2 separate regions of the Homo sapiens genome follow, and region 1 is linked to region 2. Evidence: fine-mapped expression QTL. A gene starts in region 2. The other region holds a variant in brackets. All regions are shown on one strand. Distances are from middle to middle.

Region 1 (2,901 bases), 25 kb before region 2:
TATATATATATATATATATATATAGAAAGAAATCACAAAGAAAACTAGAAAATATTTTGAGCTGAATAACAATGAAAATGTAACATATCTAAGCCTATGTGATACAGATAAAGCAATACAATAAAGGGAAAGTTATAACATTAAATGGCTTTATTCAAAAGGAAGAAAGTCCCAAAATAAATACATTTGCTAAGCTTCCACCTTTAGGAACTAGATAAAGAAGAGCAAATTAAACCCAAAGCAGGTAGAAAGAAAGAAATAATAAGATAAGAGTAGAAATCAATGACTAGAAAACAGAAAAACAAGAGAGAAAATAAATGAAACCACAAGCTGCCTCTTTGAAAACATCAACAACATTGATAAACTTCATCTTCAATCAGTAGAAAAGAGAAAGTCACGGGCCAGGTGCAGTGGCTCATGCCTGTAATCCCAGCACTTTGGGAGGCCGAGGTGGGAGGATCACGAGGGGAGGAGATGGAGACCATCCTGTCTAATGTAGTGAAACCCCGTCTCTACTAAAAATACAAAAAATTAGCCAGATGTGGTGGCGTGTGCCTGAAGTCCCAGCTACTCGGGAGGCTGAGGCAGGAGAATTGCTTGAACCCAGGAGGTGGAGTTTGCAGTGAGCCGAGACAGTGCCACTGCACTCCAGCCTGGGCGACAGAGCAAGACTCCATCTCAAAGAAAAAAAAAAAGACACAAATTACCAACAAGAAAAATGAAAGCCTGGGTGCAGTGGCTCTGCCTGTAATCCTGACACTTTGGGAGGCTGAGGCAGGAGGATTGCTTAAAGCCAGGAATTCAAAACCAGCCTGGGCAACACAGCGAGACCCTGTCTCTACAAAAAGTAAAAAAATTCGCTGGGTGTGGTGGCTCATGTTTGTAGTCTTAGCTACTTGGGAGGCTGAGGTGGGAGAATCCCTTGAGTCTAGGAGGTCAAGGCTGCAGTGAGCTATGATAGCGCCATTACACTCCAGCCTGGGTGACAGAGCAAGACCTTGTCTCAAAAAAAAAAAAAAAAAAAAAAAAAAAGAAAGAAAGAGAGGGCATCCCTACACATCCTGTGACCATTAAAAAGATAATAAGGAAGTATTGTGCCCAAAGTTATGACCACAAATTTGACAACTTAGATGAAGTGGGCATATTCCTTGAAAGACACAAACTAGCAAAGTTCTCAAGAAGAAACAAAGGGAAGCGGAAAAGATAACTATTGGGTACTGGGCTTCATAGCTGGGTGATGAAATAACCTGTACAACAAACCCCCATGACACATGTTTACCTATGTAACAAACCTTCACATGTACCCCCAAACCAAAAATACAAGTTTAAAAAAAGAGGGAAAACATTACTTTTTCTCTCTTTTAGTTTGAGAAACTAGCAGTTAATTTTTTTTTTTTTTTTTTTTTTTTGAGACGGAGTCTCACTCTGTCGCCCAGGCTGGAGTACAGTGGTGCCATCTAGGCTCACTGCAAGCTCCACCTCCCAGGTTCACGCCATTCTCCTGCCTCAGCCTACCCGGCAGCTGGGACTACAGGCACCCACCACGACGCCTGGCTAATTTTTTGTATTTTCAGTAGAGACGGGGTTTCACCATGTTAGCCA[C/T]GATGGTCTCAATCTCCTGACCTTGTGATCCTCCTGCCTCAGCCTCCCAAAGTGCTGGGATTACAGGCATGAGCCACCACGCCCGGCCTAAAATTTTATTATGTGAATATGTATGTTAGTGATTTCATGTTAGCATATATGTAGCAAAACCAATAAAACTGTCATCAGCATTGAAATAATAAAATGTGTTGGCTTTTTTTTTTTTTTTGAGACAGAGTCTAGCTCTGTTGCCCAGGCTGGAATGCAGTGGCACGATCTCAGCTCACTGCAACCTTTACCTCACCAGTTCAAGCCATTCTCATGCCTCAGCCTCCCGAGTACCTGGGATTACAGGTGTGTGCCACCACGCCCAGCTGATTTTTGTATTTTTAGAAGGGACAGAGTTTTGCCATATTGGGCAGCCTGGTCTTGAGCTCCTGACCTCAAGTGATCCACTCACCTCAGCCTCCCAAAGTGCTGGGATTACAGGCGTGAGCCACCACACCCGGTCTTTTTTTTTTTTTTGTAAGACAGGGTTTCATTCTGTGGCCCAGGCTGGAGTGCAGTGAAGCAATCTTGGCTCACTGCAACCTCCACTTCCTGGGTTCAAGTGATTCTCCTGGCTCAGCATCCCGAGTAGCTGGGATTACAGGTGTGTGACATCACACCTACCCAGCTAATTTTTGTATTTTTAGTAGAGATGGGGTTTTACCATGTTGGTCGGGCTGGTCTTAAACTCCTGACCTCAAGTGATCTTTCCTCCTCGGCCTCCCAAAGTGCCAGGATGACAGGCGTGAGCCACTGTGTCCAGCCATAATATGTTTGGCTTTGAGTACACTGTTTAAATAAAGCAACACCTAAGGGTGTCACTGGGAGGTCTATGAAATAGGCTGAAGTATTAAAAACCAAGCAAAAATAGTAAGAAAAGCTGAGAAAGAAACATGGAAAGGAAAAAAAAAGGAGTGAAAAAAGATTGGCAAAGTAGTGCCTCACCAAGAAAATGTCTTTCATGCTGTTTAGTGATATTCTCGGTTAAAAATTTCTAAAAGCTGTGGAAAGCAAGTCAAATTTTGTTCTAGCCTTCTGCTGTGAAAACATTAGGTAACAAATATGTGTCAAATCTATTGTTTTCCAAAATATGGTGTTCATGCTTGAAATACGCCATTGCCAAATAAAGTCTATTTTTGATATACATAAAAAAAGAAGAAACAGAAAACCCAAATAGTCCTATACATCAATTAAGGAATAGAAATTCATAGTAAAAACTTTCTCATGAAAAAATTTCCCAGCCCAGATGGCTTCACTGGTGAATTTTATTAG
Region 2 (2,901 bases):
ATGCTCAAGAGACCCTCCCGCCTCAGCGTCCCGAGTAGCTGGGACTGCAGGCAGGCACTACCACACCCAGCTAATTCTTACATTTTTCTGTAGACATGGGGTTTTGCTATATTGCCCAGGCTGGCCTCAAACTCCCAGCCTCAAGGCATCCTCCCACCTCAGCCTCCCATAGTACTGGGATTACAGGTGTGAGCCACCGCACCCAGCCTGAAATTTCATTTCTAAGCCTCAAAGCCCATCTGTAAAATGGGCACAAGGGTAACGTTGGCACACGTGGTGGACGCTCCGTTGGTGTCATTATTACAGATCACGGCCAGTTGAAGCACTTCCACTCATTTGGCAAACAGAAGCCAGACGGGCATTCACCCTGTGCCCAGTACAGTGCTGCGCCCAAGCAGGCAGTCAGTGTCCCTGGCTCCAGCCCTCCTGGGGTGCAGCACAGTTTTGAATGTGGAGGGGAGGCAGCAGGGGTGGAAACAGCCCAGCCAGGAGCGGCCGCTCTCGGTGCGGGGAGGAGGTGAAGTGAGAACTGAGCTGCTTGGGTCTCAGGGAGGCTCTGACTTCTAGAGGGGGCGTTCAACATTCTTTAGTGGGGACTTTTACTACTTCCAGAAACCTCTGCACATTGGCTCTTGCTGGTCCCCCGGGGGCCACAGGAAGTGGGAGCTCCAGATGAAGAGTCGCTGGCACTTTGAGGGCAGGGGGCAGGGCCTTCCCCTCATCGGAATACTCTTGGAGCCTACTTCAGTGCCTGCATTCAGCTGGTGCACAATAAGTGCTTGTTACTGTGCCAATTTCAGTATGACTAGGGCTGTGGTAGGAGCAATGCTAGGCGATGGGGAATCCGAAGACGCACAGGAGTCCAAGGGTTGGCTGACTGCAGACCCTCATCATAAGTCTAGAGCCGGAGAAGATGGGGAGACGCCGGCCTGCGCCCTGTGAGTCTGGGCCTCAGTCTTCCCATCTCTGAAATGGGGAAGGGGTTCCTCGGCCGAGCGGATCGGCCGCAGAACTCGGCGGAGTCGAGGGGTCCAGGCCCAGGAAGGACGCCGCCGGGGCGCCCCCCGCCCCTCAAGCTTGCGTGGCGGCAGCGCGCACGAGCGCTGGGGGCGGCGCGGCCCCGCGGCGGGGAGGGGCGGGCGCGCGGGCGCGCGGGCCCGCGCAGGCGGTGGCGGCGGCGGCGGAACCGAGCTGACGGGCGTGCGGCCGCTGCGCCGCAAACTCGTGTGGGACGCACCGCTCCAGCCGCCCGCGGGCCAGCGCACCGGTCCCCCAGCGGCAGCCGAGCCCGCCCGCGCGCCGGTGAGTCGCCTGGGGCTGGGGCCGGGCCGGTGGGGCCCCGCGGCCCGGAGAAGGGCGGGGGCCGGGCGGCGGGGCCGTCACCCCCAGCCGGGCCGAGGGCGGGCGCGCGCCCACGGCTCCGCGGGGGAGAGCGGGAGGCGGGCGCGAGTGTGGCCGCGCGGGGCTGAGCGTGTCGGCGGCCGGGCGGGCGGGGGCGGCGTGTCCGCGTGTCCCGGGGTGTGCGCGTCCCCGGCGGGTGTGCGTGTGCACCCCGGAGCGTCTGGTGGCGTTGTTGGGGTGAGTGCGTGCGGGGACGCGGGCATGGCTCCCCGCTACCCACTTCCCGAGTGGGGACGACGGGCGGAGGAGTGTGCCGGGCGCCGCAGGGAGTACGTGCGGGTCTCAGGGAGTGTGTGTGTGCACGTGTGTGCATTCCAAAGTGATTTGTGTGCAAGCACATGCGTGAGCCTAGAAGGGCGAAAGTATGCCTGTGTGGGTGTGAGTATAACGAGTGTGCAGGGCCGTGCGAGCGTGTTTATTACTGAGGTTGAGGGGCCGGCCCCCTTTGCGCCCACCAGGCCTTTGCACAGTGATGGCCCCCGAGCCAGGGAGCCCGTGGAGAGAGAAGCGGCCTGGCATGGGCTGGGGGTCGGGGCTGGGCCTGATCCGGTGAACCAGGGGCCAGGAGGGCAGACTCAGAGCCTGGCTGGGCCTGACAGAGGCAAAGGTCTTAGAGCCAGGCTGCGGCAGGGCCACTGGCAGGACCCTCTCTGCATACACAGGCTGGGCGAGCGGAGGCTGTGGTGGGCCCCTCGGCCGGGCACCCGAGGACGTGTGTTTTCCTAAATATCCTCCAGGCTCTCCTGTCTTTGTTCTTGTCTCTCTCCAGCCAGGCCTGGGGGGCTGACCCTAGACTTGCCTGTGTATGTGGGGGCCTCTCTGCCTGCCCTGCTAAGTAGACGGATCTTTTGATTTATTTATACCTCTCCTAGGCTCCAAGTGTGAATCCCAGGACAGTAACAAATTGATCACAGCGGGCTTGGGACACCAGCTTCCGAGGTCTGTCCTTGCAGTTTTGACTGACAGGCTTTTGTGTGTGTGCGTGCTCTCTAACTGTTGAAAATCTTTGCAGCTGAAAGTCTTAATTGCTTTAAGGCAAACTTTAGAAATTCCAGAGCTCCCTAGTTGGTCTGACTTTTCCAAATTCAGCTTGCCTTTTTTGGGGGAAAATGTCGCCTTAGTTTGGTGTACAGTACGTGCAGGCAGGTCTTGGAGGCACGTTTAAAAACCCTGTCGTTAATGGAAGAAGAATTTCATTGAAAGGGACGCAGAGCCGTCTGGAAGCGCCTGCCCCGGACTCAGCGAGTTTGGACTCAGCGAGTTTGAGCTTACCGAATGAACTTTGGACGTCTTCTTTTAGCAAACAAAACCTGGAAGGAAGCAAAAAAGACCCACATTCTTTTTCTTTTTTCTCCTGAAAATGAAAAAAAGAAAACACCTTCTGGGTTTGCTGGAAATGCCCCCTCTCCTTCCCCCATCAAGGCCAAGCCCTCGCTGCGTCCCCCACCCCCAAATAAAATATGCCTGTGGGGAGCCGTGGAATGAGTCACTCCCTGGCAG

What was found. PIP is the estimated chance that this variant, and not a neighbour inherited with it, causes the effect.
Region 1: its variant is fine-mapped to the expression of NEK6 in whole blood (TOPMed, PIP 0.93).

The regions. Positions count from the first base shown.
Region 1 is chr9:124,232,080-124,234,980 of GRCh38, forward strand. No RefSeq gene overlaps it. Among named protein-coding and RNA genes, the nearest start is that of NEK6, 24 kb to the right of the region's middle. The variant C/T (reference allele first, on the strand shown) is at 1,603.
Region 2 is chr9:124,256,784-124,259,684 of GRCh38, forward strand. NEK6 (NIMA related kinase 6) reads left to right here and starts at 1,166. Exons shown (of 10, transcript NM_014397.6): 1 at 1,166-1,302. It overlaps LOC613206 (a long non-coding RNA gene), which reads right to left. Exons shown (of 2, transcript NR_149024.1): 2 at 2,427-2,711. RefSeq lists silencers at 1,186-1,315, 1,376-1,745 and an enhancer at 1,783-2,728.